Linked DNA regions of Homo sapiens. The protein of the gene in region 2 purifies or fractionates together with the protein of the main gene of each other region. This does not show direct contact. Each region holds a gene or a part of one and is shown on either strand. Other genes may lie near its edges.

Evidence for each region. The genes of interacting proteins can lie anywhere in the genome.
Region 1: the proteins of MAMDC4 (region 2) and ATP8B2 purify together in Homo sapiens (affinity purification with mass spectrometry; one large-scale study listed by BioGRID and IntAct). This does not show direct contact.

What each region holds. Positions count from the first base shown.
Region 1 is NC_000001.11:154,335,382-154,339,031, forward strand, and holds part of ATP8B2 (phospholipid-transporting ATPase ID), read left to right. Parts: intron 1-1,966; coding exon 1,967-2,163; coding exon of another isoform or gene 2,164-2,293; exon of another isoform or gene 2,294-2,465; intron 2,466-3,362; exon of another isoform or gene 3,363-3,421; intron 3,422-3,650. UniProt on the Homo sapiens protein: Catalytic component of P4-ATPase flippase complex, which catalyzes the hydrolysis of ATP coupled to the transport of phosphatidylcholine (PC) from the outer to the inner leaflet of the plasma membrane.
Region 2 is NC_000009.12:136,858,323-136,861,449, forward strand, and holds the end of MAMDC4 (apical endosomal glycoprotein precursor), read left to right. Parts: intron 1-77; coding exon 78-224; intron 225-396; coding exon 397-531; intron 532-682; coding exon 683-810; intron 811-886; coding exon 887-995; intron 996-1,563; coding exon 1,564-1,742; intron 1,743-2,239; coding exon 2,240-2,281; 3' UTR 2,282-2,477; downstream 2,478-3,127. UniProt on the Homo sapiens protein: Probably involved in the sorting and selective transport of receptors and ligands across polarized epithelia.

The DNA.
Region 1 (3,650 bases), on a different chromosome or scaffold from region 2:
TAAGATTTTTGACTAATCAGGAAATCTAGACCAGGAGTGGTGGCTCACACCTGTAATCCCAGCACTTTGGGAGACCAAGGTGGGAGGATCATTTGAGCCTAGGAGTTCGAAAACAGCCTGGACACCATAGTGAGACCCTGTCTTTACAAAAAACTGAAAAATTAGCCAGGTTTGGTGGCATGCACCTGTGGTCCCAGTTACTCTGGAGGCTGAGGCGGGGGGATTGCTTGGCCTGGGAGATTGAGGCTGCGTTGAGCTAGGATCATGCCACTGCACTCCAGCCTGGGCAACAAAGCAAGACCCTGTTTCAAAAAAGAAATCTACGTTTATGAAGATAAGTTTGTTTCCCAAGTTTAAAAAAAAAAAAGGCAATCTTAGCCAGGTGCAGTGGCTCACGCCTGTAATCCCAGCACTTTGGGAGACCGAGGTGGGTGGATCACGAGGTCAAGAGATCAAGACCATCCTGACCAACATGGTGAAACCCCATCTCTACTAAAAATACAAAAAAATAGCTGGGCGTGGTGGCGGGCACCTGTAGTCCCAGCTACTTGGGAGGTTGAGGCAGGAAAATGGCGTGAACCCGGGAGGTGGAGCTTGCAGCAGTGAGCCGAGGTCGCGCCACTGCACTCCAGCCTGGGCGACAGAGCAAGGCTCCATCTCAAAAAAAAAAAAAAAAGGCCATCTATGTGAGATAGTGAACATTACCGTGGCTTGGCATTTTTGTTGGCTTGTACCTAGCCCAGGTGAATAGATTATTTACAGTAAGTTTTCTGGTATGTTAAAAGTAGCTCATCCCCACTCTTACCAACTTTGAGGACTCTGGAAGGTTTCAAGGTGCCAGATTGAGAGCTAATCAACTATTTCAGTTTCTTCATCATATAGATGAAATAATGGTCAGACAGAAGGCCACATGATAATTGGTGACAGACTAGAACCTGTCACCAGTTCTGAGCTTTTTCCACTAGAGCAGTGGTGTCCAATATTTTGGCATCCCTGGGCCACATTGGAAGAAGAATTGTCTTGGGCCACACATAAAATACACTAACATTAACAATAGCTGATAAGCTTAGAAAAAAAAAATTGCAAAAAAAAATCTCATAAATTTTTTTTTTTTTTTTTTGAGACGGAGTCTCACTCTGTCACTAGGCTGGAGTGTAGTGCAATGGCATTATCTCGGCTCACTGCAACCTCTGCCTCTCGGGTTCACGTGATTCTCCTGCCTCAGCCTCCCTAGTAGCTGGGATTACAGGTGCCCGCCACCACACCCGGCTAATTTTTTTGTATTTTTAGTAGAGATGAGAGATGGGGTTTCACCATGTTGGCCAGACTGGTCTCGAACTCCTGACCTCATGATCTGCCCGCCTTGGCCTCCCAAAGTGCTGGGATTATAGGTGTGAGTCACTGCACCTGGCCTTTTTTTTTTTTTTTTTTGAGACAGGTTCTTGCTCTGTTGCCCAGGCTGGGATGCAGTGGCATGATCTTGGCTCACTGCAATGTCTGCCTCCCGGGTTCAAGCAATTCTCATGCCTTGGACTCCTGAGTAGCTGAGACTACAGGCAAGTGCCACCAGGACTGGCTAATTTTTTTAATGTTTTTAGTAGAGACGGGGTTTCACCGTGTTGGCCAGGCTGGTCTCAAACTCCTGACCTCAGGTGATCCATCCGCCTCAACCTCCCAAAATGCTGGGATTACAGGCTTGAGCCACTGCGCCCAGCCCATAATAGTTTTTTTTTTTTTTATAATTATTTTTCATTTAACATTCAGCTGTTACCAAAATCTCATAGTGTTTTAAGAAAGTTTATGAATCTGTGTTGGGCCACATGTGGCCCAGAGACCATGGGTTGGACAAGCTTGCACTAGAGCATCTGAGCTTTTGAGGGCTCAAGGGATGAATACATCACAGATGCACTTGGTTTTGAGGGCTTCCTACATGTCAGCCTCGCCTGTGCTTCTCATTCCTCCCCAGATTTTTGGATTCCTGGTTTGCATGGGGGTGATCCTGGCCATTGGCAATGCCATCTGGGAGCACGAGGTGGGGATGCGTTTCCAGGTCTACCTGCCGTGGGATGAGGCAGTGGACAGTGCCTTCTTCTCTGGCTTCCTCTCCTTCTGGTCCTACATCATCATCCTCAACACCGTTGTGCCCATTTCACTCTATGTCAGGTATGTGCCTTCTCTGACCTGGGGTCTCTCCAGGGAGTCAGGCGGTCCCATAGAACTTTTCTTTTCTATGAAGATGAAGTCCTTGAGAAGTAACGAGAAGTCCTCTTCTTCCTGTACTGTAAACATTTGATGTTATCTGTTTATCTTTGTGGGCAGAGCAAACTTTTTACCACAGTTTCCTGGTACTTGGGACTGTATTAGAGAAAAAAAAATATTGATTTATTCAGCACCTATTTATTACATGCCTACTGTGTACAAAGAAGTGTGCTAGGTGCCATCACAAATAAAAGATGAATTAGGAATGGATCTCCTTCCTTCTAGGAGCTTACGTCTAGTAAAGGAAGGAAAATCTAAACACATTATAAAACAAAATAGGAACCAGTGCTGTAGAATTCGACCTAGAGTCTTCTATGTGAAGCTTGGGGATACAGAGATGTATAAGGTGGCCTCTGCCTTTAGCAGCAGCAGATGGATAGGTCGAGGAGGGGAGATCTGGACAGTGTCAGACTGAGATACCATGTGGGAGGCACAGGGTGCCCGGGGACTGGGAGAGTGTCGCTCCCTAAGCAGGTAGGCAGAGAGGGAGAGATGGCATTTGCTCTGGGCTTTGAGTGGTGACTGGGCTGGATGAAGGTGGAGCCACAATGGAGAGGAGGCTGAGAGGGCTGGAAGCAAAGGTGTGGAGATGGGAGCCTGGGAATGGCCTATGGAAATAGTTGGCCAGGGTCTTGGGCCAAGAGCAAGAGCTGGAAACATAGCTTGCTCCTGATTGTGGAGGCTTTTGAATATTTGCCTGTGGACTTTGTATTTACTAACCATTAAAAGTTATTGAAAAGACTGGGCACGGTGGCTCACACCTGTAATCCCAGCACTTTGGGAAGCCAAGGTGGGCGGATAACGAGGTCAGGAATTCGAGACCAGCCTGGCCAACATGTTGAAACCCCGTCTCTACTAAAAATACAAAAATTAGCCAGGTGTGGTGGTGGTTGCCTGTAATCCCAGCTACTTGGGAGGCTAAGGTAGGAGAATCGCTTGAAACCGGAAGGTGGAGGTAGCAGTGAGCCAAGATCACGCCACTGCACTCTAGCCTGGGCAACGAGCGAAACTGTGTCTCAAAAAACAACGAAACAAACAAACAAACAAAAAAGTTTTTGAAGAAAGTCAAAAGAATGTATTCTGTATTCTAAAAATGCATTCTAAGTGTTACAGCTCTTTTAGAATTTGTCTAGCAGGTTTTCCAGTTTTCACTGGAACCCCTCCCCCACAAAAAGAAAAAAATGCATTCTAAAAAAAAACTAAAGAATGCTTTAGGAAGTATTGACTGGCAGTAGTGTACAGCATGAATAGGATCAAGGCAACATGTAGGATGTTTGAGGTAAAGAGAATGTTAGCAGGGACAGGCCAGTGAGAATGAAGGGGAGGATCGGAGGAAGACGAGGCAGGAGGAATGGCCAGGGGAAAGGAACTTTCTTGCTTAGTGCCTTGCA
Region 2 (3,127 bases):
AGCCCTTTCCCTTCGTAGTCGTGGTGCCCAGGGCTTGGGCCGTGGGGCAGCACCACTCACCCACCCATGTCCTGCAGGTTCCTGTGATTTTGAGTCTGGCCTGTGTGGCTGGAGCCACCTGGCCTGGCCCGGCCTGGGCGGATACAGCTGGGACTGGGGCGGGGGAGCCACCCCCTCTCGTTACCCCCAGCCCCCTGTGGACCACACCCTGGGCACAGAGGCAGGTACGTGCCCACTGGAGCCAGGTGGGGAGGCACACACAGCCACCTGGCCTCCTGCTGCCCACCCACAGAGTACATGCCCCATCCAGAGGAGGCCCTGCTCACCGAGCCTCTGCTCGGGCCCTGAGGGCTGGCTCTGCCCATCAGCTGGGCATCAGCCTCCTCTTGTTCCCAGGCCACTTTGCCTTCTTTGAAACTGGCGTGCTGGGCCCCGGGGGCCGGGCCGCCTGGCTGCGCAGCGAGCCTCTGCCGGCCACCCCAGCCTCCTGCCTCCGCTTCTGGTACCACATGGGTTTTCCTGAGCACTTCTGTGAGTCCGGCTGGGCCAATGGGTGCCTGGGCAACGGGGGCAGCAGGGGTCCAGGAGCAGAGGTGGGGAGGTGGCCTCCCCAGCCCGCCCCTGGTTAGGCGTGCAGGAGCCCCAGGACCCCAGGCCTGACACGCCCTGGCCCTGCTCTCAGACAAGGGGGAGCTGAAGGTACTGCTGCACAGTGCTCAGGGCCAGCTGGCTGTGTGGGGCGCAGGCGGGCATCGGCGGCACCAGTGGCTGGAGGCCCAGGTGGAGGTAGCCAGTGCCAAGGAGTTCCAGGTGAGGCTGGCTGTGGGCAAGGAGCCTCCTCCTCCTCCACCCAGGGCCCACACAAACTCCTTTCCTTCTCCATCAGATCGTGTTTGAAGCCACTCTGGGCGGCCAGCCAGCCCTGGGGCCCATTGCCCTGGATGACGTGGAGTATCTGGCTGGGCAGCATTGCCAGCAGCCTGCCCCCAGCCCGGGTGAGCCCTGGGCTGCAGTGGAGGCACGGAGGAGGGCCCAAGGGGCCAGCCTGGCTCGGGGTTTGCCAGGCTTACCAGTGTGTGGTCCCAGGAGCTGCGAGCATGCTGCACCCAGACAGGACAAGAGAGCTGCCAGGCCCAGGCCCTGTGCCCTCCTCACTCTGCCCTGCTCACCCCTGGGGCCGCTGCCTGGGCTGGGCTGTCCCTGGGGTGCAGCCTCTGGGGCCTGCCCTGCCTGGCTGTGGCCTCTGTGCTCCCTGTGCCCACACCCAGGGCAAGGTCCATCCTGGAGGAACCGCCAGCCGGGTCAGGGCAGCCACTGACTGCTCTCACTTGGTGAGGGAAAGAATCTCGCCTGGGGCCATGAGCCCCACCAAGTCTGCAGACAGCAGCTGCCTGTCTGCCAGGCCCCATCCTTGTGGTAGCAGAACCAATACCCTCTGCCTTTGAAATAGGGGTGAACCCCAGGAGCCAGCAGAGGCTGAGGGACCATGCAGCCCCAGGCTTCCTCCTTAGCCCCAGATGTGGGGGCTGCTTTGGAGGGCTCACATGTCCCTATGGCCCACAGGGAACACAGCCGCACCCGGGTCTGTGCCAGCTGTGGTTGGCAGTGCCCTCCTATTGCTCATGCTCCTGGTGCTGCTGGGACTTGGGGGACGGCGCTGGCTGCAGAAGAAGGGGAGCTGCCCCTTCCAGAGCAACACAGAGGCCACAGCCCCTGGCTTTGACAACATCCTTTTCAATGCGGTAGGAGCCCCTGGGGATGGGTGGGCAGGAGCCTCTGTGCTCAGCTGTGACGCTGGAGGGCGGGCAGTGGCGGGACACAACCCCCCGGGGAGGAGCCCCCACCTGTGCAAGGCCCATCCTTGCCCTCCCTGCCCTGCCTCTCCCAGCCACCACTGTCAAAGCTCCTCCTCCTTGGCCGGGCGCGGTGGCTCACACCTGTAATCCCAGCACTTTGGGAGATTGAGGTGGGCGGATCACCTGAGGTCAGGAGTTTGAGACCAGCCTGCCCAACATGGTGAAACCCCGTCTCAACTAAAACTAGAAAAAATTAGCTGGGTATGGTGGCAGGAACCTGTAATCCCAACTACTCGGGAGGCTGAGGCAGGAGAATCGCTTGAACCAGGGAGGCAGGGGTTGCAGTGAGCGAAGATCGTGCCATTGCACTCCATCCTGGTTGACAAGAGCGAAACTCCGTCTCAGGAAAGAAAGAAAAAAAAAGCTCCTCTTCCTCCTCCTAGGATGGTGTCACCCTCCCGGCATCTGTCACCAGTGATCCGTAGACCACCCCAGACAAGGCCCCGCTTCCTCACGTGACATCCAGCACTTGGTCAGACCCTAGCCAGGGACCGGACACCTGCCCCGCCCAGGCTGGGACAGGCTGCAGGTCTCAGGATATGCTGAGGCCTGGGCGTTCCCTGCCCTGTGCTGACTCTGTTGCTCTGTGAATAAACACCCTGGCCCATGAGGGCAGCCCAAGCTCCCAGGGTGAAGTCAGTGTGTCCACACTTTACCAGCCAGTGAGGGTGGGGGCTGCAAGTGTTAAGTGACGTGCTAGGGGCGCCTGCTTGCTTCTGGATGCAGCTCAGGAACCAGAGACAAGGGGACCCTCTCTCATCAGGACACAGACCCACCCAGGACAAGGGCCGGGGCAGGCCCTACCAGCTAGGGGCTCTGCATCTATTGAGGACAACAGTGAAACTGACCCACAGCATCAGGGGCATGCAGAGGAGATGACCCTTAGGGGACAGGGTGCATGGAGCAGGCCTGGAAGGGAGAAGTGCCCCAGCTGGGCCCACTGTCTGTGGTATAGGCCTGAGCTGCCCCAGGGGCTGTGGGTCACAGTACCCAGGTCACCAGGTGCCCCAGGGCTGTGGGTCGCAGTGGCCAGCTAAGTGGGTGCCTCAAGGCTGCGGCTGAGCCCTTCCCTTTGGCCCCCATGCCTGAGCAGGAGGGTGACCCTGTGAAGCTGTCACTGGGCCTGGGGCACCAGCAGAGGACTGCCATCCTAACGCAGGGTCAACGTCACTAACCTCAGCTCCCAGAGCTCTGCTCCTCCATGTGGGTGACTTGGCCACTGCCCCATGGTGAGGGCCTGGTCTTGTGGCTCTGAGGCCTGGCTGTGGGTG